Regions from separate parts of the Homo sapiens genome. Here all the other regions are linked to region 1. Evidence: fine-mapped expression QTL. A gene starts in region 1. Each other region holds a variant in brackets. All regions are shown on one strand. Distances are from middle to middle.

What was found. PIP is the estimated chance that this variant, and not a neighbour inherited with it, causes the effect.
Region 2: its variant is the best candidate, but not a certain one, in a credible set for the expression of SHMT1 in whole blood (INTERVAL, PIP 0.50).
Region 3: its variant is the best candidate, but not a certain one, in a credible set for the expression of SHMT1 in prefrontal cortex (GTEx, PIP 0.65).

The regions. Positions count from the first base shown.
Region 1 is chr17:18,358,422-18,366,592 of GRCh38, reverse strand. It overlaps SHMT1 (serine hydroxymethyltransferase 1), which reads left to right and starts at 3,043. Exons shown (of 12, transcript NM_004169.5): 1 at 3,043-3,221. RefSeq lists a silencer at 2,949-3,418.
Region 2 is chr17:18,284,400-18,292,742 of GRCh38, reverse strand. It overlaps TOP3A (DNA topoisomerase III alpha), which reads left to right. Exons shown (of 19, transcript NM_004618.5): 11 at 1-98; 12 at 1,716-1,901; 13 at 2,057-2,186; 14 at 7,223-7,336; 15 at 7,436-7,601. Among named protein-coding and RNA genes, the nearest start is that of TOP3A, 26 kb to the left of the region's middle. The variant G/A (reference allele first, on the strand shown) is at 3,151.
Region 3 is chr17:19,011,857-19,019,856 of GRCh38, reverse strand. It overlaps SLC5A10 (solute carrier family 5 member 10), which reads right to left. Exons shown (of 15, transcript NM_001042450.4): 10 at 6,340-6,447; 11 at 4,658-4,808; 12 at 266-434; 13 at 1-144. Among named protein-coding and RNA genes, the nearest start is that of FAM83G, 11 kb to the right of the region's middle. RefSeq lists an enhancer at 4,784-5,773. The variant C/G (reference allele first, on the strand shown) is at 4,774.

The DNA.
Region 1 (8,171 bases):
CCCAGCAGTTTGGGAAGCTGAGGCAGGTGGATCACTTGAGGTCAGGAGTTTGAGACCAGCCTGGCCAACATGGCAAAACCCCGTCTCTACTAAAAATACAAAAAAAAAAAAAAAAAAAAAAAAAAAGCCAGGTGTCATGGTGCATGCCCGTAACCCCAGCTACTCGAGAGGCTGAAGAAGGAGAATCACTTGAACCCAGGAAGCAGAGATTGCAGTGAGCCAAGATCACGCCACTGCACTCCAGCCTGGGCAACAGAGACTCTATCTAAAAAAAATAAAAAAATAAAAAATGAAGCATTCAGTGCTGGAGAAGAAATGGGAAATGGGTATTTCCCTAAATTGTTGCTGGGAGTGTGAATTGTTACAATGCTTGTAGAAAGCAATATGGCAATATTTACTAAAAGCTTGACCCAGAAATCTTACTTTGGATATTAAAAAACTCACGGGTTGGGCACAGTGGCTTATGCCTGTAATCCCACCACTTTGGGAGGCTGAAGCGAGCAGATCATCTGAGGTCAAGAGTTCGAGACCAGCCTGACCAACATAGTGAAACCTCGTCTCTACTAAAAATACAAAAATTAGCAGGGCGTAGTGGCGCACGCCTGTAGTCGCAGCTACTTGGGAGGCTGAGGTGGGAGAACTGCTTGAACCCGGGAGGCGGAAGCTGCAGTGAGCCGAGATCACACTATTGCACCTCAGCCTGGGCAACAGAGAGAGGCTCCGTCTCAAAAAAACAAACAACAGGCCGGGCGCGGTGGCTTGTGCCTGTAATCCCAGCACTTTGGGAAGCCGAGGCAGGTGAATCACGTGAGGTCAGGAGTTCGAGACCAGCCTGGCTGACATGGCGAATCCCTGTCTGTGAGAAAAATACAAAAATTAGCTGTGCACGGCCGGGCGCGGTGGCTCATGCCTGTAATCCCAGCACTTTGGGAGGCCGAGGCAGGCGGATCAGAGGTCAGGAGATCAAGACCATCCTGGCTAACACAGTGAAACCCTGTCTCTACTAAAAATATAAAAAATTAGCCGGACATGGTGGCGGGCGCCTGTAGTCCCAGCTACTCGGGAGGCTGAGGCAGGAGAACGGCGTGAACCTGGGAGGTGGAGATTGCAGTGAGCGAAGATCGAGCCACTGCACTCATGCCTGGGCGACAGAGCGAGACTCCGTCTCAAACAAACAAACAAAAAGAACAATTAGCTGGGCATGGTGGTGCACGCCTGTAGTCCCAGCTACTCGGGAAGCCGATGCAGGAGAATTGCTTGAACCAGAGAGGCAGAGGTTGCAGGGAGCCAAGATCGCATCACTGCACTCCAGCCTGGGTGACAGAGCGAGACTCCATCTCAAATAAATAAATAAATAAAACAAAAACAAAAAACAAAAACACTCACTATGTTGGCCAGGCGCAGTGGCTCTTGCCTGTTATCCCAGCACTTTGGGAGGCCGAGGAGGATGGATCACTTGAGATCAGGAGTTCAAGACCAGCCTAGCCAATATGGTGAAACCCTATCTCTACTAAACATACAAAAATTAGCCGGGTGTGGTGGCTCACGCCTGTAATCCTAGCACTTTGGCAGGCTGAGGCAGGTGGATCACAAGGTCAGGAGATCAAGACCATCCTGGCTAACATGGTGAAACCCTGTCTCTACTGAAAATACAAAAAATTAGCCAGGCGTGGTGGTGGGCTCCTGTAGTCCCAGCTACTCGGGAGGCTGAGGCAGGAGAATGGCATGAACCCAGGAGGCAGAGCTCGCAGTGGGCCTAGATCGCGCCACAGCACTCCAGCCTGGGCAAGAGAGGGAGACTCCGTCTCAAAAATAAAAAAAAATTAGCCAGGCGTGGTGGCGGAGGCCTGTAGTCCCAGCTACTCAGGAGGCTGAAGCAGGAGAATGACGTGAACCCGGGAGGTGGAGCTTGCAGTGAGCCGAGATCGCGCCACTGCACTCCAGCCTGGGCGACAGAGCAAGACTCTGTCTCAAAAAAAAAAAAAAGTTTTTTTTGTATTTTTTGTTTGTTTGTTTTTCGAGATGATGAGGGTCTCACTCTGTTGCCCAGGCTGGAGTACAGAGGCAAGATCATTGCTTACTGCAACCTCTGCCTCCCAGGCTCAAGTGATCCTCCCATTCAGCCCCCCAAGTAGCTGGGACTACAGGCGACTGCCACCACACCCAGCTAATTTTAAAATTATTTGTAGAGACAAGGTTTCACCATTTTGCCCAGGCTGGTCTTGAACTCCTAGGCTCAAGCCATCTGCCTCGGCCTCCCAAAGTGCTGGAATTACAGGGGTGAGCCACTGCGCCCGGTTTTTATCATTCTTATAATAATTATTGTTATCATTTGACAAATAAAAAAATTTATGACGCAGCCTCAGGTGGTCCTGACATGTGGCCCCGGTTTTTATCATTCTTAACAATAGGTAATGTTCATTGAGTCCTTATTGTGTGTCAGTATTTTATTTATCTTATTTTATTCTTCTTGAGACGTTGTCTCGCTCCGTCCCCCAGGCTGGAGTGCAGTGGCGCGATCTCGACTCACTGCAACCTCCGCCTCCTGGGAGGCAACATAGTTAGACCCCCATCTCTACTTCAACCTGGGGGACAGAGTGAGACCCTGTCTCAAAAAAATAAAAATAAAAAATAACAAAAATAATAATAATAAAGTGTCTGCTCTTGGATTATACACCTACAGAGTAATAATGTTGCAGTTTGGACGCACATTTGTCCTACTTTAAATGACCACCCTGCAAACTAAAAGTAGTACCATGAACAAAATTCACTCATAATCCCACGGCCCAAGCGACAGGCTTAAGTGAGGAAGGCCCTGTGTAGTCTTCCTGGAAATCTTGGTCCACACACCAGCCCTGCAGCCAAAGCGGGTCAGTTCTGCAGGTCCCTGCCCCAGGTGCGCAGCTGCACTACGCGGCCTCCGGCCCGCCCCGGAGAAACAGGCCCTGCCCGCCGCTGCGCCGCAGCCAATAGCGCGGGTGCGTTTGGTGGCGGCCCATGCTTGGCTGCGCTCTCTGATTGGGCGCCTCCGGGGGCGGGGCCAAGCCCAAGCCTGGCGCGCAGAGTGCACCTTCCTGAGCTCGAGCGGTCCAGCGCCAAGTTCGGGGTTTGGGGTTGGAGCGGCTGGTCACGTGGCTGGCCCGCGGCGGTGCGCGGGGCGTTGGGTCAGCGGGTCTGGGACTGGTGGCACCGGCGGCGGCGTAGGACGGAGGCGTCGCTAGGTACGTGCGCGGGCCGTGTTCCGGTAGGTGGGCGGCTTCGGGTCCGAGGGCCGCGGCGTCCCAGAGCCCGGGGGGTGCTTCGGCGTCCTCGCTGTCCCCCGCCGTACCCCACCCTCTGCAGCCGCAATGACGGGAGGGGAGCGCTTGGGTCGCGCCTGGGCTGGGGATCGGGCGGCGGCCAGCCGCAGCGCCCCAGTTCCAGGCACATTCGGTATGATGGGGTGGCGGCCCGTGGCCTTTGGCAAGAATGCGAAGGCTTATCGGGGATGTGAGTAGTAGCTCTCCACTGAACACTTTTCTCGTTGAGCATTTTCGATTTAAACAATCCTAGCTCCTTCACAACAAAGCTGCAAGTCAAGTGCTACTGTTTCCCCCATTTTACAGGTGAGGAAGGTGGTGGGGCCCTGAGAAAGGAGGCAACTTAAATGGCAGAGCCCGGAATAGAACCCGGGTTCTCAAAGCCTGCGCCCCTAAAGGCTGCGCGCAGGGTCGCTCCACTTTTGGCCCGTGCCACCAGATCCCTGTGGGGAATGAGCTCTTCCTGTTGCCCGCAATCTGCCACCCCCTGTTCTAGGAGACAAATGTTGCACTGTGAAGTTCTTGGCCCGGTGCCTTGGCTTCGAGATTCCGGGAGTTAAGTGACCCTTGGTCCAGCTGAGGTCAGCACAGATGCGGGCCTTCAATCGGGCAGTTACCCAGAGAATAGACTGGAAACACCAGTTTAGGTTCTTGCAGAAATAACATTGTAGGCCGGGCGCGGTGGCTCATGCCTGTAATCCCAGCATTTTGGGAGGCCGAGGTGGGCGGATCACTTGAGGTTAGTAGTTGGAGACCAGCCTGGCCAACATGGTGAAACCCCGTCTGTACTAAAAATACAAAAAAACCTGGCTGCCCATGGTGGCACACACCTATAATCCCAGCTACTCGGAAGGCTGAGGCAGGAGAATCGCTTGAACCCGGGAGGTGGAGGTTGCAGTGAGCGGAGATCACGCCACTGCACTCCAGCCTGAGTGACAGAGTGAGACTCTATCTCAAAAGAAAGAAAGAGAGAGAAAGAAAAGAAAAAAAAGAAAAGAAATAACGTAAATTTATTACTTGGGGGAACTTGGAACGGAAGTGGGTAATTGTGTTTTTATTTAGTGCAATGTCCTGGGACAAGGCCTTGGAACTGAAGAGAAACCATTGTTCAGATTCTGGCTCTTATATGGCTTTAGACAAGTTAGCTCCCTGGGCCTCAATTTCCTCTTCTGTAAAGAAGAGAACACAAAATGTGTGTGAGATAGAAGATGTGCAACAAGTTAGTTCCCTGAGCAGATCCTTGGCTGGATCCTCTTATGTGACAGAGGCCCAGGTAAGATTTGGAGGCATGGGGAGGCTGGTGACCTTGCAGGTGACTTCACTTACTAGGTCTTTTTCCCTGACGTTGAGGATCATGCCACACATGAGCAACAGTGCCTCTACAGAAATATCCAATGTTGTAATGACTGATGTTGCAGTGAGCTGTGTTGGCTGGGGGACTTACCAGGTATTACTGAATGTTAATGAAGATGTCCCTAAGATTCCCAATTTTCTTTTTTTTTTTTTTTGAGACGGAGTCTCACTCTGTTGCCCAGGCCGGAGAGCAGTGGCGCGATCTCGGCTCACTGCAAGCTCCGCCTCCCGGGTTCACGCCATTCTCCTGCCTCAGCCTCCTGAGTAGCTGGGACTACAGGCGCCGCCACCACGCCCAGCTAATTTTTTTTTATTTTTGTAGAGACGGGGTTTCACCATGTTAGCCAGGATGGTCTCGATCTCCTGACCTCGTGATCTGCCCGCCTCGGCCTCCCAAAGTGCTGGGATTACAGATGTGAGCCACTGCACCCAGCCCCCTTTTTTCTTTTTTGTTTTTTTTTTTGAAACGGAGTCTAGCTCTGTCACCCAGGCTGGAGTGCAGTGGCATGATCTCGGTCCACTGCAATCTCTACCTCACTGGTTCAAGCTATTCTCCTGGTCTCAGCCTGCTGAGTAGCTGGGATTACAGGCATATGCCACCATGCCTGGCTAATTTTTGTTTTTGTTTTTTTTTTTTTTTTTGAGACAGAGTCTTGCTCTGTTGTCCAGGCTGGAGTGCGGTGGCACGATCTCAGCTCACTGCAACCTCCTGGGTTCAAGCGATTATCTTGCCTCAGCCTCCTGAGTAGCTGGGGTTACAGGTGCGCACCACACACCCAGCTCATTTTTGTATTTTTAGTAGAGATGGAGTTTTACCGTGTTGGTCAGGCTGGTCTCGAACTCCTGACCTGGGGTGATGCACCCGCCTTGGCCTCCCAAAGTGCTTGGATTACAGGAATTGAGCCACTGCGCCCAGCTAATTTTTGTATTTTTAGTAGAGATGGGGTTTCACCATATTGGCCAGGCTGGTCTCAAACTCCTGACCTCAAGTGATCCACCCACCTCGGCCTCCCAAAGTGCTGGGATTACAGGCGTCAGCCACCGCGCCTGACCGCTTTTTTTTCTTTCTTTAGAGAGACGGGGTCTCCCTATGTTGCCCAGGGTGGTCTTGACTCTTGTGGTCCTGTGACTCCCCAGACTTCAGGTGTGCAAGCCTGATTTCTGACCCTTGGCCAGTCACACTTTCTCCTTTGTCTGGCCTTTGAACTTGGGGTGCTCTGCACTTGTTTACTCTGCGTAGATTGCTCTCATCCCAGATTTCATGGTTGGCTCCTTTCCACAGCTCAGATTTCAGCTCCGGGACGTTCCCTGACCCAGTCTAAAGTAGCCTTGCACCCATTTATTGCATCTTTCTTTCTTTTCTTTTCTTTTTTTTTTTTTTGAGACAGGGTCTTGTTCTCTTGGCCAGGCTGGAGTGCTGTGGGAAAATCTGGGCTCACTGCAGCCTCAACCTCCGGGACTCAAGTGATCATCCTGCCTCAGCCACCCAGAGTAGCTGAGAATACAGGCGTGCGCCACCAGGCTCGGGTAATTTTTTGTATTTTTTTTTAGAGACAGGGTTTTGCCATGTTGCCTAGGCTGGTCTTGAACGCCTGGGCTCAAGTGATCTTCTCGTCTCAGCCTCTCAGAGTTCTGGGATTACAAGTGTAAGCAACCATGCCTGGCCTTGTGTATTTCTTTTTGGTTTTTTTTGTGATGGAGTCTTGCTCTGTCACCCAGGCTGGAGTGCAATGGTATGATCTCGGCTCACTGCAACCTCCACCTCCTGGGTTCAAGCGATTTTCCTACCTCAGCCTCCCGCATAGCTGGTATTACAGGGGCCCACCACTATGCCCATCTAATTTTTGTATTTTTTAGTAGAGACGGGGTTTCGCTGTGTTGGCCAGGCTGGTCTCGAACTCCTGACCTCAGGTGATCCGCCCGCCTTGGCCTCCCAAAGTGCTGGGGTTACAGGTGTGAGCCACTGTGCCTGGCCAAATAATTTTTTTTTTTTTTTAAGATAGAGTCTTGCTTTGTTGCCAGGCTGCGGTGCAGTGGTGTGATCTCTGCTCACTACAGTCTCCGCCTCCTGGGTTCAAGCCATTCTTCTGCCTCAGCCTCCTGAGTAGCTGGAATTACAGGCGGGCGCCACCACACCCAGCTAATTTTAGTATTTTTAGTGGAGATGGGGTTTCACCATGTTGGCCAGGACAGTCTTGATTTCCTGACCTTGTGGTCTGCCCGCCTTGGCCTCCCAAAGTGCTGGGATTACAGGCGTGAACCACTGCACCTGGCCTTTTTTTTTTTATTGAGACACAGTCTCACTCTGTCACCCAGACTGGAGTGCAGTGGCACAATCTCGGCTCACTGCAGCCTCCACCTCTGAGGCTCAAGTAAGTCTCATGCCTCAGGTGTGTGCCACCACACCCAATTAATTTTTTATATTTTTGCTATAGACAGGGTTTCACCATGTTAGCCAGGCTGGTCTCAAACTCCTGGCCTCAAGTTGATCTGCCCACCTCAGCCTTCCAAAGTGCTGGGATTACAGATGTGAGCCACCTTGCCCAGCCTAATTTCTAAATTTTTGTAGAGACGTGGTTTCACTGTGTTGCCTAGGCTGTGGTTGAACTCCTAGGCTCAAAGGATCCTCCTGCCTTGACTCCCCTAAGTGCTGGGATTACAGGCATAAGCCACCATACCAGGCCCTTTTTTTTTTTTCCCCTGGAGACAGAGTCTTGCTTTGTCACCCAGGCTAGAGTGCAGTGGTGTGATCTCGGCTCACTACAACTTCCGCCTCCCGGGTTCAAGCGATTCTCCTGCCTCAGCCTCCCAAGTAGCTGGGGTTACAGGTGCCTGCCACCACACCTGGGTAATTTTTGTATTTTTAGTCATGTTGGCCAGGCTGGTCTCGAACTTATGACCTCATGATCCGCACGCCTTGGCCTCCCAAAGTGCTGGGATTACAGGCATGAGCCACTGGGCCCAGCCCAACCTGTAATTCTTTAGGAAGATTTATATTCAAACAAGTCCTTTTTTTATTTAAAAGAAAAAAACACACACACACAGGGTCTTACTCTGTCACCCAGGCTGGAATGCACTGCCACAATCACGGCTCATTGCAACCTCTAGCTTCCAGGCTCAGGTGATCCTCCCACCTCAGCCTCCTGAATAGCTGGGACTACAGATGCATGCCACCACGACCAGCTAATAATTTGTATTTTTTGTAGAAATGGGGCTTTGCCATGTTGCCCAGGCCAGTCTTGAACTCCTGGGCTCAAGTGATCCTCCTGCCTCAGCCTCCCAAAGTGCTGGAATTACAGGCATGAACCACCACACCCAGCCCAAGTACATATTTTAACTAACAGCTTCACAGGAACTCTGTGGATTACTTAGAGCATGTGCTTTGGGGTTTCGAGTCCTGCCTCTGTGGCTAACTTTCTGTGCAGCCCTGGGCTAAGATATTTTACTTTTCTTTGAGACAGAGTCTCGCTCTGTTGCCAGCCTGGAGTGCAGTGGTGATCTTGGCTCACTGCAACCTCT
Region 2 (8,343 bases), 74 kb after region 1:
GCATTCTAGAGCGGGGTGGTCCCACCCCACGCAATGGGAACAAGTCTGACCAAGCTCACCCTCCCATTCACCCCACCAAATACACCAACAACTTACAGGTTGGTTTCCCTGAATGTACTGCCTGCTGGAACCCATAGGGAAGTGCTGGGGGTCAGTAGTAAGGTTTGAATTTACTCTGTGGGCTGTGATTGTAAAAACAAGTGATTTTGAGATCTCTCTCATTTCACAATCCTCTGCCTGGCTTTGATAAAGACCGCCTCATCCCTCCCCGTGGTGGGCCCCCGTCTTAATCCAGCTCCACATCCCACTCTCCATCAGCTCCTGCTGCTTCCCTGCTAGTCCTTCATAGGCAACCCCTGTGCAGACCCCCACCTCCACTGTGAGCCTTGTGGCCTTCCCAGTCCCTGGAACTAGAGAATTCTATCCATCCTCCCAAGGCTGGCTCAGTTTTGGTTGCCTCCTGAAACTTTGCTGCCACCCCAGTCGTGCCACCCCCTGTCACTGCAGTTTCCCACACAGCTCTGCTTGTCTGTCTCAGTCATTTCCTCAGCCAGGGGCAGGCTCTGCAGGCACAGGAGCCATTAGGCTTGTTTACATCTGTAGGCTTCTCACAAAGTTGGGGAAATGCTTGTTTACATCTGTAGGCTTCTCACAAAGCTGGGGAAATCTTAGTCTTTTGTTCTTCTCCTCCTTCTTTTAATAAAATACATTCTTTCTGATTTTAAAAATATGGCCGGACGCGGTGGCTTATGCTTGTAATCCCAACACTGTGGGAGGACAAGGCGGGTAGATCACGAGGTCAGGAAATTGAGACCATCTTGGCCAACATGGTGAAACCCCATCTCTACTAGAAATAGAAAAATTAGTTGGACGGGGTGGCATGTGCCTGTAGTCCCAACTCTCAGGAGGCTGAGGCAGGAGAATCGCTTGAACCCAGGAGGCGGAGGTTGCAATAAGCCGAGATTGCACCACTGCACTCCAGCCTGGCGACAGAGTGAGACTCTGTCTCGGAAAAAAAAAAATTACATGTTCATTTTAGACAAATTAAGAAATACAAAAGTTTATAAGGGGGTAAAATTGCCTATTAAGCATGATATTTAACAATTACAAAGATGTGCCATAATTTATTTTGCCAAATCTGTTTTTTGTGTGTTTTTGATACTATAGTTAACATTTGTAGACATAAATATTTTTGTGGTTCTCCAGTTATTTCCTTTGAAGAAATCCTTAGAAGGGGAATTATTGGATATGTGTATAAATGTCTCATGGGCTTTTGATAGACTGAGGCTCACTAAATCATTGATTACCTAATTGAAAATTACCCTGAAAATTACTGCTTAAATGTGTGCATGAAGTTGGGCTAAGGCCACCAGGTGCAATGTTGCTGTCTCTTGTATTTGAGGAGTGTCTTGCTAACTTCTTACGCTTTCATCTTGTTTTCTGCTTAGATTGCGTTTACATCAAAGAACCACTTCCCAGTCTGGAAGGGAAGATGACTCCTTTGCTTATCTTTGCCAGATTTGAGTTGTGAGATGTGTCAACCTAAACCCATCCTCTCCCCAGGACTTGTTTGCCTGGCACTCCATGTTAGTGCAGGGCCTGAGGAGCAGTGTGGCCTCTTCTGTGCAGGACATTAGGCTAAGGCTACCAGTGATGCTCCTGTCCTTGAGAGGTGATATTCTAGGGGGAGTTTCGTACTCCTCTTTTCTTCCTAGGGAGATGAACAGCGACTGTACGAGTTTATTGTTCGCCATTTCCTGGCTTGCTGCTCCCAGGATGCTCAGGGGCAGGAGACCACAGTGGAGATCGACATCGCTCAGGAACGCTTTGTGGCCCATGGCCTCATGATTCTGGCCCGAAACTATCTGGATGTGTATCCATATGATCACTGGAGTGACAAGGTAATAAAGAGTGGTCCCCAGTGAGAGGGAGGACAGTTGTGTTGTGAGCCCTGAGTTCTCTAGTGGAGCAGGATCATGTTCCTTGAAATGAGGTTATTTTTTGCCTGAGTGTGCTGATGGAATCATCTGACTGTTGCACCTGCCGCTCCCTGTAGATCCTCCCTGTCTATGAGCAAGGATCCCACTTTCAGCCCAGCACCGTGGAGATGGTGGACGGGGAGACCAGCCCACCCAAGCTGCTCACCGAGGCCGACCTCATTGCCCTCATGGAGAAGCATGGCATTGGTCAGTGGCTCCTCTGGGTAACTCGCATCTCTTGAGCTAAGGCTTACAGTGTACCAGGTACAGGTTTCCTCTAGTCTTCAAACCATTCTCTAATGCAGCTGCTATATCTTTATCCCATTTTATAGTTGAAATAAGGCTCAGAGAGGTTAAGAACTTACCTAAGTTCACAAAGTGTGTATTATTAAAACCTGGTCTGAATAACTCCACAGTCAGTGCTCTTAAACCATGCACTGTGCTGTCCACATAGTAACAGAGACTTTTCCCATGGCTTTGAGGGCCCAACTGGGAGCACCCATTGGCCACATGAGGATTTGTTGTTCTTTCGAATAAGAACAGCATGTAAGGAACCAACAATTAAAACTTGGGACAGTTATCATAAAATCTATCTTCATTTTGAAGTGTCAGATAGAGCCCTGAGCCTCCTTCCCATGTGGAGCATTGGGTGAGGGTGGCAGCTGTCTCTGCAGGTCTGAACCCACACTGCTCACTCAGGCTGCTCACGCTGGCCTCATGTATGTGCCAGGACCCTGCTGATAAGTCCCATGGCTCAAGCTTTGCAGGTAGGGCCTTGTAACTAATCTGCTGTCCCCTCCATTCGTTTTTGTCAAGGCTCTCAAGGGCTTTCTCTGGCAAACCTAGTCCAGGAATACCTGCAGCACAGTGGAGGGGAAGCAGAGCTCCCTGGGCATGTGTTACATAAGCAGCTGCGTCATCCACAAAGGGAGTTTCTTAGGCCTATGACTTGGGAAGCAGTGCTTCAACGTGAAGTCCTTGACCATCACTAGGACATCCAGAAACCCTGCAGGTTTAGGTAAAATTAGTAGAGGTTCACCCGTCATGATTTATTTGATAAAAATGTATGAAGGCTGGGTGTGGTGGCTCACACCTGTAATCCCAGCATTTTGGGAGGCCAAGATGGGTGAATCACTTGAGCCCAGGAATTCAAGACCAGCTTGGGCAACAC[G/A]GTAAAACCCCATCTTGCTGGGCGCAGTGGCTCACGCCTGTAATCCCAACACTTCAGGAGGCTGAGCTGGGTGGATCACCTGAGGTAGGGAGTTTAAGACCACCAACCTGACCAACATGGTGAAACTCTGTCTCTACTAAAAATACAAAAATTAGCCAGGCATGGCGGTGGGCACCTGTAGCTGAGATTGTGCCATTGTACTCCAGCCTGGGCAACAACAGCAAAACTCTGTCTTAAAACAAACAAACAAACAACAACAACAACAACAAAACAGATCTGGCTGGGCACGGTGACTCATGCCTGTAATCTTAGTACTTTGGGAGGCCAAGGCGGGTGGATCACCTAAGGTCAGGAGTTCGAGACCAGCCTGGCCAACATGGCAAAACCCCATCACTACTAAAAAAATACAAAAATTAGCTAGGCGTGGTGGCACATGCCTGTAATCCCAGCTACTTGGGAGGCTGAGGCAGGAGAATTGCATGAACCCGGGAGGTGGAGGATGCAGTGAGCCAGGATCGCAGCACTGCACTCCAGCCTGGGTGACAGAGTGAGACTCCATCTCAAAAAAAACATTTCTACAAAAAATTAGGTGCATGCCTATAGGTAGGGAGGCTGAGGTGGGAGGATCACTTGAGCCCGGAAGGCAGAGACTGAGGTACAAAGTGTGAGGCCCACAAGAGTGAGAGCTTGGACTAAGCACCAGGGACACAAGGAGGAATAAGACCTCATTTTTTAAGTTCTCAATCTAACAGAAGAACCAAACCAACACATTGAATACAATGTAATAGTTCTGCAGGGAGTAGGCAGGGAAGAAAATGTGATGGGTGGACTGGCATTTGAGCTGGACCAAAACCTCATAGTAAGACTTCTGGATCAGCGAAGGGCAGCCCAGTGCAGGGTAGGCCTGAGGAAGGGCACAGGAGCAGGAAAGCAGAAGCCTGCTGTAGCTGGATTGGAGGGGGGTGGCCATAGAAGGTGAGCCTGGAAAGATGATCCAAGCCTGACTTTGCAGGGCCTTGGCTTGCCCAGTTGAAGGGCTTAGATGGTGGTACATGGTCAGCAGGGAGTCTTCCAGGATTTCTAAGTAAAGGAACCACATAGAGGTACACTTACAAAAAAATAATAATAATATTTTTAAAAGATTATTAACAGGCTGGGCATTGTGTCTCACACCTATAATCCCAGCACTTTGGGAGACCAAGGTAGGGGGTCAGGAGTTCAAGACCAGCCTGGACAACATGGTGAAACTCCATCTCTACTAAAAATACAAAAAATTGCTAGGTGTTATGGCTGACGCCTGTAATCCCAGCTACTTAGGAGGCTGAGGCAGGAGAATTGCTTGAACCCGGGAGGTGGAGGTTGCAGTGAGCCAAGATTGTGCCACTGCACTTCAGCCTTGGTGACAGAGAGAGACTCCATCTAAAAAAAAAAAAAAAAAAAATTTATATATATATATATATAATTATTAACAGCTTTATTTATATACCATACAGTTTATCTCCTTCAAATGTATAATGTACATTTTTTAGCATATTCACAAAGTTGTGCAGCTATCACCACAGTCAGTTTTTTTGTTTTTTTTGTTGTTTGTTTGAGATGGAGTTTTGCTCTTGTTGCTGCAGGCTGGAGTGGAGTGGCACAATCTCTGCTCACTGCAACTTCCGCCACCCAGGTTCAAGCGATTCTCCTGTCTCAGCCTCCCGAGTAGCTAGGCTTACAGGCACGCACCACCACACCCAGCTAATTTTTGTTATTTTTAGTAGAGACAGGGTTTCACCATGTTGGCCAGGTTGGCTGGTCTCAAACTCCTGACCTCATGATCCGCCCACCTAGGCCTCCCAAAGTGTTAGGATTACAGGTGTTAGCCACCATGCCCGGCCCCTAAAAAAATTTGTTTTGGAGAGATAGCATCTTACTCTGTCACCCAGGCTAGGTCACAGCCATGAACCCTGGGTTTCAAGGGATCCTTCCACCTCAGCTTCCCAAGTAGCTGGGACTACAGGCATGTGTTGCCATACCCAGCTAATTTTTTTGTTGGGTTTTTTGTTTGTTTGTTTTGTTTTGTTTGAGACAGAGTCTTACTCTGTCACCCAGGCTGGAGTGTAGTGGCACGATTTCAGCTCACTGCAACCTCCGCCTCCCAGGTTCAAGAGATTCTCCTGCCTCAGCCTCCTGAGTAGCTGGGACTACAGGTGCGCATCACTGGCTAATTTTTGTATTTTTAGTAGAGATGGGGTTTCACTGTTAGCTAAGCTGGTCTCGAATTCCTGACCTCAAATGATCCACCCGCCTCGGTCTCCCAAAGTGCTGGGATTATAGGCCTGAGCCACCATGCCCAGCCAGACTTTTTTGTTTTATGTAGGGACAGGGTCTTGCTATGTTGCCTAGTCTGGTCTTGAACTTGCACCCTCAAACTGTCCTCCTACCTCAACCTCCCAAAGTGTTGGGATTACAGGAGTGAGCCACTGCACCTGGCCAGATTTGCCTACTTTAGTTATTTCCTATAAAGAGCCAGGCACAGTGGCTCACACCTGTAATCCCAGCACTTTGGGAGGCCAAGGTGGGCCAATCACTTGAGGTCAGGAGTTCGAGACCAGCTTCACCAACATGGTGAAACACTTTCTCTACTAAAAATGAAAAAATTAGCTGGGCTTGGTGGCAGGCGCCTGTAATCCCAGCTACTCGGGAGGCTGAGGCAAGAGAATCACTTGAACCCGGAAGGCAGAGGTTGCAGTTGATGGACACTTGAGTTGTTTCTACTCTTTGGCTATTATAAATAATCCTGCTGTGAACAGTTTTGTACAAGGTTTTGTGTGGATATGTGTTTTCATTTCTCTTGGGTAGACTTAGGAGTGGGATTGCTGGTTTACTTGGTAACTCTACATTTAACATTTTTAGGAACCACCAAACTTTTCTGAAGTGGCTGTACCGTTTTTCATTTCCACCAGCAAGGCACTAGGATTCCAGTTTATCCACATCCTTACTAACACTTAGTATTATCTCTCTTTTTGATTTTGCCAGTAGGTCTGAACTGCTATTTCACTGGTTTTTTTGGTTGTTTTTTTGTTGTTATTGTTGAGGTGGAGTCTCGCTCTGTTGCCCAGGCTGGAATGCAGTGGCTCGATCTCCGCTCACTGCAGGCTCCGCCTCCCAGGTTCATGCCATTCTTCTGTGTCAGCCTCCTGAGTAGCTGGGACTACAGGTGCCCGCCACCACACCCGGCTAATTTTTTTTTTTTTTTTTTTGTATTTTTAGTAGAGACGGGGTTTCACCGTGTTAGCCAGGATGGTCTTGATCTCCTGACCTCGTGATCTGCCCGCTTCGGCTTCCCAAATTGCTGGGATTACAGGCGTGAGCCACCACGCCCAGCCCTTTTTTTTTTCTTTTTTTTTTTAAAGAGAGTCTCACTCCATCACCCAGGCTGGAGTGCAACGGTGCCATCTCAGCTCGTTGCAGCCTCTGTCTCCTGGGTTCAAGTGATTCTCCTGCCTCAGCCTCCTGAGCAGCTGGGACTACAGGTGCGTGCCGCCACACCCTGCTAATTTTTGTATTTTTGATAGAGACAGGGTTTCAGCATGTTGGCCAGGCTGGTCTCGAACTCCTGACCTCAGATGATCTGCCCACCTTGGCCTCCCAAAATGCTGGGATTACAGGCATAAGCCACTGCTCCCAGCCTTCACTGCAGTTTTAATTTGCATTTCCTTCATGGCAGAGCTACATTTTGAAAGGTCCCTTTGGCCACAGCTTAAAGAATGGTTAGGGTAGAGGAAGAGACTAGAAATAGGGACACAAGCTGCAAGTATGGCTTGGACACATGGGGAAGAGAATTTTTAAAAAGAGCTTTGAAGCTGGAATTGACAGCTTTCCTGAGTAATGGGATGTGAGGGAACAAGAGAGTTGAGGTTGCCATTGTGATTTCTTGAATGAGCTATATGGGAATGAAATGAAGGCATCTTACCTGCATAGGCTGTCCAGGCAAAGGAGGGATTCCGGGGTGAGCAAGGTGCCCATGCGCCACCCGGGTGGAGCTGTTGTCTGTATTACCTCAGAGTAACCAGCAAGTGGCTTCCAGGTACGGATGCCACTCATGCGGAGCACATCGAGACCATCAAAGCCCGGATGTACGTGGGCCTCACCCCAGACAAGCGGTTCCTCCCTGGGCACCTGGGCATGGGACTTGTGGAAGGTAAGGGAGGACAGAGCTTGCAGTGGGTAGTGGGTGGTGTCGCCCAAGTCCCTGAGGGTCTCAGGTGGGCCCTCACTGAGCTCGACTCTCTCCCTGCAGGTTATGATTCCATGGGCTATGAAATGTCTAAGCCTGACCTCCGGGCTGAACTGGAAGCTGATCTGAAGCTGATCTGTGATGGCAAAAAGGACAAATTTGTGGTTCTAAGGCAGCAAGTGCAGAAATACAAGCAGGTTTTCATTGAAGCGGTGGCTAAAGCAAAGAAGTAAGTCCTTAAAAGAAATACAGAGGGGTCTCACTATGTTGCCCAGGCTGGTCTTGAACTCCTGGCCTCAAGAGATCTTCCCACCTCAGCCTCCCAAAGTGTGGGGATTACAGGCGTGAGCCACCGCATCTGGGCCAGTCAGAGTTTATAACCCTGCCAGATTCATCCTCACCAGTGGCCTCCTGGCCTGGAGGTTTTCCACATACCCCTTTTCTTTGGACTTTCTTCTCTGGGTTCTTTTACAACTCTCCATAGAGCTTTGTCAGTATAGAAACAGTAATCGGAACAGTCTCCTTCAGTTATTCTGAACTATTGGCTTTAGAAATACCATTCTCTTGATTTTAATTATCTTTTTTTTTTCTGCTTTAATTACATGACACATTAATTATCTTGAGTTAGGCAACAAAGTCTTTTAAATCAGTAAACCCAAGTGCTGGAGTGTGATCCATTTGTTTTCTGGAGCATTTAGAGGTGGATATTTAGCAAGCAGCATGTGTGTATTTTGTTAGAAATGATGTGTTTTCTACCTGTGATATTATGATTTATAATAAGATATATATATTTGGACTTCATTTTCTGATACCCTTGGAATTTTTTAAGTGCTGTGTCTGTTGTATACAAATGAGATGACTAGTGGCCAAGGGCTCCTGGGTAGCCTTGGGATCGGTCTGGTTGTCAGGGAACCAACCCTGTGATTAGAAGGTTGGGACTTTGAGTCCCACCCCTACCTCAGGAAGAGCAG
Region 3 (8,000 bases), 650 kb before region 1:
GACAGCGAAGTGCAGGTAGTGGATGCTCCCCAGGACGGCTGGCCGCGTGTCTGGCTCTCCGCACGGTGGGGCTGGGTTCAGGAATTCCAGGACCAGCCTCGTGGCCCCCACCACCAGCCCTGCTATCAGGCCCCAGAAGGCCCCCTGGGGAGGAGGGAGGCAGGGCATGTGGGGCTACGGGAGGAGGACCAAGGCTCCCCCCACAGGCAGCAGGGAAGAGCAAATTGTGGCACGTCCCCAGGGAGAGCAGACCGCCGACGCCCACCTGCTCGTTGGCACGTCGCCAGAAGACGCCCAGGACAAAGACTGCAGTCACTGGTGGGGCCAGGGAGCTGGTCACTGACTGCATGTAGATGAAGAGTTGCCCGCTGTTGGAGTCCTGCAGGACGGGGATCCAGGCCACACTCACGCCGATGAGTGCCACTATGACCAGCCTGCAGGCGAGTGGAAGGCAGGCAGCGGTCGTCGTGGGAGGCTCTTCAGCTCTCTCCCACCTCCCCTGGTCACTAAGACTTGCTCTCTAATCTTTCCCCTGCTACCCCAGCTCCAGCCTCCTCCCTGGACTCTGGTCCACACCACCAGTGACCTGGCCAGTCCTGCCCTGCTCCAAACCCTTTGGTGGCTCCCTGGATCCTGCAGGTGCAGCTCCTGACTCTAAGTGCTGTCTGCTCCTTCCCTGCCCTGGGGTCTCTGCGGAGCCAGCCCTTGGAGCTCCGCCATGGAGCTCCCTCTTGTCTCTCCTTCAAAGCACCTGTCCCAGTCACTACATGCACATTTACCTGGGTGTCTACTTGTTTACTGCCTGTCTTCCCCTCCCAATGGAAGCACCAGGAGAGCAGGAGCCTCATCTCTTTAGTTCATTGCTGTGTCTCCCAGCATATAGTAGGTGCTTACTAAGCATTTGGTGAGTGCATGAATGACCACTGCCCCCCGATCTGGGCCAGACTGACTTCCTGGTGGTTATTTGAAGACACTAGGATTTTTCACACTGGCCGGCATTTGTGGGAGCTGGGACCTCTGGCTGGCACATCCCCACCCCGACAGCCCTGTGCTGCACATCCTTCACAGGGCAACCTGCTTACTAAGGATGCAAAGTTTGGAGCCAGAGGTGTGGGTTGGGGTTAGAGCCCATACTCCCCAGCTGTGAAGCCGGAGCCCTGCTGGGCCAGCATGAGCCCGTCCCCTCCTGTCCCCTGCGTGTCAGCTCCTGCCTGCCTCTCCCTTAGGCCAAGAGCCCCTCTACAACAGGCACATGCTACACTTGTTCATCCAACAAACCACTGGTGAGGTGCTCACCTGCGTAGGACACTACCCTAGGATCCCCAACTCGGCGATGAGTGGGACCTGGTGCCTGCCCAGCACTCAGAGTCCAGCAAAGAAAACAGATGAGCCTCTTACCTACACTCGGACTGGGCTGGAGCAGCTCAGAGGAAACATCAATCTAGGAGGGCTTTCAGGAGGAGGCACCCCCTCCCCGAGCCTTGAGGGGCATGGGACCCAGCTAAGGGGATGAAGCTGGGGCATGGCATCCATCCGCTCCTCCCTGGCTGAGCACCTCACCCCTGTGTCCTGGGTCAGTTGGCATTCCTCACCCCCAAGGTGGGTGGTGGGTGACCCGCTGGAACCCTGGCTGTGGTGGCAGGGGTGACAGAGGCTATGTGTTCAGCTAGGGTGGGTCCTCTCAGCGCCTGTCCGCCTTCCTCCCTCCCTTTCTTCCCTTCTAGGCCTGAGGGAGAGGGTGGAGGAAGGAGGTGCCACCTTGATTAAGGCTAATTAACCCCTAGCCAGGCAGGCAGGCGGGCGCTGCCCTCATCAAAGGCCCAGGCGGGCCTCCATTAACGCCTGCCCACCCCGCCCTCTGCACACAGCTCTCCCGCCCAACACCAGACTCTGCATCTCTGTGCCAGGGCTGGGGCCACTCCAGCCAGGCCCTCGCTTTCTTACCCAGCCTTCTTACCTGGCTGCCAGAGGACCCCCAAACCCAGAGGCTGCTCCTTCTGCCTGGAATGCCACTCCCTCCCATGCCACCATCAGGGTGGATAGTGCCCTCCAGCATCTCCCTGGGCTGCAGCCACAGTTACTGTGGAACATCTCAAGGAGGGGTGTCTGAGATCTCTCCGAGTCCTGCACAGGGTTTCCAGGAGGCTGTGGGCCCCATTTACGGACTGAACAGCCGGGAACACAGACAGGGGAGAGTGGGGCAGGGGGGCAGTGGCGGAACAGTGGACTGAGGTGTGGGGGCTTGGGGCAGGCATACGGGAGTGGGGGCGGGTCATCGCTCTCCCCCAGCCTGTGACGGCTCCTCCAGCCTCTGCTCAGCTGGACAGAGCCATCAGGGTCACCGGCATGGTACTGCACCCGGCCCTGCGATGGCCTCCTCTCCAGGCCTCTGGGCTGTTGGTCTTCTCTCTGTAAGCCTCGCCTCTCCCTGACAGAGACTGTTGTCAGGCCATTCACCCTACCAGAGATCCATGACCACGAGGCCTAGGAGATACCGCTCCAATGGTGGTGTTTCGGGCAGGAGGAAGCTGAGACGGCTTTGAGGGGCTGGGGGTGTTGAGGGTATCCCAGTGCTGTAAGAGGGACGGGAAGTTGAGCTGGCCAGCCTGACACCTGGCACGGGGCCCTTTCTGCTCTATCCAGCTGGCAGCTGAGAGAACTGGGGCCCAGAGAGGGTGAGCAACCTGCCCTGCACCACGCAGCCTTGTGCCTTGCTCCTCAGGGAGGCCGACTGCCAGGCTTGCAGGGCTAGGGGCGGGGGTTGACTTGGCAGAAGAGGTGGGAAGGAGGGTCAAGGGCACGGGCAGCTGGGTGAGCTGGCGCAGCAGGAGGCCAGGTCAAGACTTTTGGTTGCAGGTGGGAGTCTGGGTGAGGAGGCCAGGAAGTAGTGGGCAGGGGACATGAGGGCCACTGGGCAGGTACAGGGGCTACCAGTGTCACACACTGGGTGGCAGGAGGGCATCCAGTTCCCAGGGCCCAGGATGCTGGAGCATGGAGGGGCTTAGAGCAAGGTCTGGCCTCAGAGGAGACACATGGTCAGAGAGGGGCAGGGTCTTCCCCAGGCCACACAGCTTCTGAGGAGAGGCAGGGGAGCCAGAGGGGGAGAAGTGGTCAAGGGGCCAAGTGCCCAGGACACAGGGACATGGAAGTGTCCTGCCCAGTGAGAGGTGGGAGGCTCCTTGTTTTGGAGAATCCTGTGAGCCCGTGGATGAGCTCACTCGCACCCGCCTCTGGCGTGTCCCAACAGGGCCCTTCCAACAGAAGCCTGACTATTTTGCATCCCTGGGACAGCTGCCTGGAGCTCTGGAGGAGACCCCACCCCCAGGATGGGTGCCCTGGGCTCCTGGCCAGGGGGTGCTCTGTTGTGCCAGAAGGCTGGACCCCCGAGCAGCAGAGTGTGAGCCACACTGCTCAGAGGACAACAAGAGGGTGGGACTGGAGGGCCAGGGAGGGCGCAAATAGACACGTGCACATGGGAGCTAACCTCTGAGGATGTAAAGGCATAAGAGTGATAGGATGGGCTGGGCACACTGGCTCATACCTGTAATCCCAGCCCGCTGAGGTGGATGAATAACCTGAGGTCAGGAGTTCGAGACCAGCCTGGCCAACATGGTGAGACCCTGTCTCTACTAAAAATACAAAAAGTAGCCAGGCGTGGTGGTGCGCTCCTGCAATCCCAGCTACTCAAGAGGCTGAGACACGAGAATCTCTTGAACCCGGGAGGTGGAGGTCGCAGGGAGCCAAGATCATACCACTGCACTCCAGCCTGGGTGACAAAACGAGACTGTCTCAAAAAAAAAAAAAAGAATGATACAATGGACTTTGAGGACTCAGGGGAAACGCTGGGAGGGTGTGAGGGATAAAAGACTACACATTGGGTACAGTGTATACCACTCGGGTGATGGATACACCAAAATCTGAGAAATCGCCACTAAAGAACTTATTCATGTAACCAAACACCACCTGTTCTCCAGACACAGCCCCGGTCCTCATGAAGCGCCCAGATATTTGGAGAAGGGTGTCGGGGAGGTCTCTTGGCCTGTAATGGCCACATGTGCTGTGGGAAGAATCTGGCAAGCGTCCCTGGGGTATGAAGGGGAGAGAGGCTCATTCCTTGGTTGAGGGTCTCAGGGAGGACTGCACGGAGGAGGGGACACAGGCAGAGTCCAGAAAGATCAGCATGAGTCATCGAGGTGAAAAAGGAGGGGACAAGCTGGGCTGGGAGGAAACAAGCTGGAGCTCAGTAGGGCCAGGGCCATGGAGGCTGAGGGACGTGGCAGCCCAAGTGTGGCCAGTCCTGAGTGCTGGCCCGGGGGCCCTCTGTGGCGCAGCTGGGAACCATCAGGAGGAATGGGGGCCCAGGTTTTCGGGGAGATAGAGAGATCTGTGGCATGGTTGGGGAGGGAGGGCTGGCCCCTGCAGAAGGAATCCAGCTCAAGGGTGGAGATGCATCCCAGATGAGGGCTGTGATCACACAGAGGTGGACAGGAGAGCAATGTGAGAGGTGGTATGGATGGGGTACACTGGCCCTTCTCTTCCCTCCTTCCTGGCATCCACCTTTCTCTAAGTGGCAAACTCCGGCTCATCCCTCAAAGTCAGTGCGGGCGCCCACCCTTGTAGTGTTCCCCCACCCCCGTACTGGCCCCCACCCCCGTACCGTCCCACCAGCAGGAGCTCCCGCTCGCCGGAGCGGGGACGCAGCCGCCTCCAGATGTCCATAGTGAAGAGGGTGCTGCTGCTGTTGAAGATGGAGGTCAGCGACGACATGAGCGC[C/G]GCCAGCATCACTGCGATCATCAGCCCCCGCAGACCTGGGGTGGGACGGGGGATGTGTGACCCTGTCCGGCCTTGAGACAGCCCCGGGAACCCCTCCCGCCTGGGCTCTAATGCCTGAGGCCCGCCCGCCATTTGCATGCTCCTCCAAGGCAGAGGGCGGGGAGGGAGAGAAGCTGAGGAGGTTTGAGGTGAGCAAGACCCAGAATGAGGAGACTGGGGAGGCCAAGGACAAACCGTGGGGACTTCGGAGCTGGCTGCTTGAGCCCTAGGCTTGCTGGCAACCCTAGGCCCGACCATAATTACTCATAATGCTGAGGCTGCGATCAGGCCTGTCCTTTCTGCAGAGCCTGGCGTTGACAAAGCACTTTCACACCCATGCCTTCGTCCGAGGAAAGCATGATTAACCCGCTTGACAGATGAGGAAATGGAAGCTCAGAGAAGTGAAGAGATTGCCCAGGGATTCACAGCAGGCCAGCGGCAGGACTTTGGGGTGCGGTGGGGTTGGTGAGGAAGGCTTGGGCGGGGCCTCTGCTTGAAGGCCACACCCTGGGCAAGATGCACACCTCACCCCAGCATGCAGTGCCCCAGTCTCTGGAATTTTCCGCCACTTCCTGTGCATGGCAGGACCCAGCAGGCATAGTGGATCCCCTCTCTCCTTGGCTCTGTGGTTTTCCAGAGTGGGAGTGAGGGCTCCCCTAGGAGGTGCGGGTAGCATTGCTGTGAAAGGCCTTCTGGGAGTTGTGGGCTCAAGAGGGCCTGAGGGTGAGGAGCCCTAAGGAAGGTGGAAGGATGCTCAACTGCCCACTCTGTGCTGTGTGGCTTCAGGCTGGTCGCCTCCCCTCTCTGGGGATGAGTTCAAGTCTGTCTACAAGAACTCCTGCAATTTTAAGCACCTCCTTTACCTCTACAAACTCTTGCCCGTCTGTCCTAGGATAAGCCTGACATAGGCCCCCCTGCCCGGAAGGCACAGCCATTTATTGCCTGGCTGGGTTGTCTGGCCTCGGTTCTGTGTCTGATTGGCTGTGTGACTTCCAGGTGTCTCTGGGCTCTCTGTTCACTTGTCAGAAGCTGGTTGGGATGGAGCCCAAAGGAAAGTGAGTCAAATCACAGTTTTCCCCAAAACATTTCTCCACCCACTCCCTTGTCTTGCTCATGGAGATGGATGAACTTGGAGCTTATTCCATCCATTTCTTAGAGAGGGAACTCAAGACCTAGAGAGGGACTGTGGCCCAACAATGGCTCGGTGTCAGCCCTGGAGGGCTTAGCGAGTCCCCTTGCCCAGAACAGAAGAGAAAAGCGAAGGCCCAAGGTGGGAACTACAGCATGGCCAAGCCTGCACCCAGCATTTTCCCTGTGTCATTATGTTTAATCCCAGCAACAACGCTGAGGGGTGGGTAGATGCCATTATCTCCAATTTACAAATGAGGACACCCAGGCTCCAAGCAGGGAAGTGACATGCCCCAAATTTCTTGGCCAGTGAGTGGCAGCCTCCACAGTCCCCATACTCATTGGGCCCCAAGTCCAACCCCACGCCCTCCACCCAGACCCCCACCCACACAGCCTCACCGATGGGCATCAGTTCCATGACCAGCTTGGGGTAGGCGATGTTGGAGCAGCCGACCTCGGCCCCGCAGGCCCGCAGGCACTCGGACGGCACCACGCAGCCCACATCATCTGTTCGAGAGACGGACACTTGGTGTCTCTCCTCATAGACATGAGCACCTGGGGTGGGCAAGATAGGGCTGGGGGCAGGAGCCTGGCCCAGACCTGCTCCATCAATGCCTCTGACCTGTTACCATTTGGCCTTGGGCCTCAGTTTCACAATCTGAGCCACAGGGAGGGCATGGCCTCTGAAAATCCTTTTCCCTGCTGTTCTCCATCATAACTCTTCTTCCTGATCCTACTTCTTGGCCAGGGGGCTCACCTGCCGTTGGCTCTGCTGTGTGAGGTCCGCCATTAGAGTCTACCTGGGGCCTGAGCCTCCCTTGCCCCCCTCGTCCCCAGCCATTCTCCCCAAAGGGGGAAATGGAGGCTAGAGAAGAGAGAGGCCTGCAGGATGGGCCCTGCCCCAGGCCCTCAACCTGTTCCCTGGGCTTTGTGTTCACTCAGCGACAAGTCAACAAGTCGCGTCTGTCCATGGGCAGCCGGCTTGAGTGTGCTGTCACACAGCTGCAGCTCATGCAGCAGGGCTGTGGTGAAAGCTCAGGGGCTGGCGAGGCCTGCCTGCTCCAACTTCCTGGCTTAGGACGTGGGGTCAGAGCCCATCCACACCCCTGTCTCCAACCCTGGGGTCCAAGCTTTACGCCAGGCTATTTCCTGCTGCAGAGAGCTGAGCTGATGCCCAGGACTCTCCAGCCACTCAGCCTCTCAACAGTCTACAAGACCCTGGGTGATCCAGACCCTTGGCCCCTCCCCACAAGTCCCTCCTCGCTCCCACCTGAGGCCTGCCCCAGGCCTCGCCTGAGGACTGCCTCCTTCCCGAATTCCGGTCTGTCCTTCCCACCCCATTCTCCGTCTGTCCCCTTGCCCCACATCGCTTTCCCTCATCCCTTGTCATCCCTGGGAGGACTTGGACATGTTTATTTGGTTCTTGCCACTTCCCTGTGGCAGGTGAGTCCTGAGAGGACGGGGTTTGCCTCGTGCTATCTCCCCCATGGCTGGGGTGGTACACACGGCTCATCTGTTGAATGAAAGGACTCACGAATTTCCCAGGCTCAGGCCAGATCCCGACTGAACCCTAAATCCAGGCATCCCTCGGCCTCCTGCCCTGTGTGGGGGCAGAACCCCGGCCTACCTCCATAGCCCTGAGGTGTGGGGCTCTCCTCACTGCTCTGCTCAGTGAGATTTGCTGGTGTTAGCAGTCGTGGGGCTGACTTTGGCCTAGTGATACGTAGGGATGAAGAGAGTTGACCCACATTCTCTTTTTCCTCCCATAAAAGACTTTCTAGAAAGCTTTGGCCCCTGCTTCTGGGGTTTTCAGGAGGGCCCAGAGTGCAGAGCTAACCAGAAGATGATGATTACGGGGGAGTTCAGAAACAAGCTGACTGACAGCACTGCAGTGGCTGGTTAGGGGCAGGCAGAGTTGCAACACAGCAGCAGCAGGGGCGGCTGGCATTGACACTTCTGTGACTTGGTGCTCCCTCTGTAGACTGCCCCCTCCAAAGCCCCCTTCTGATACGTCCCTTCTTAGATGCCCAGCCCATGGGGAAGGGCGGGTCTCACACCCC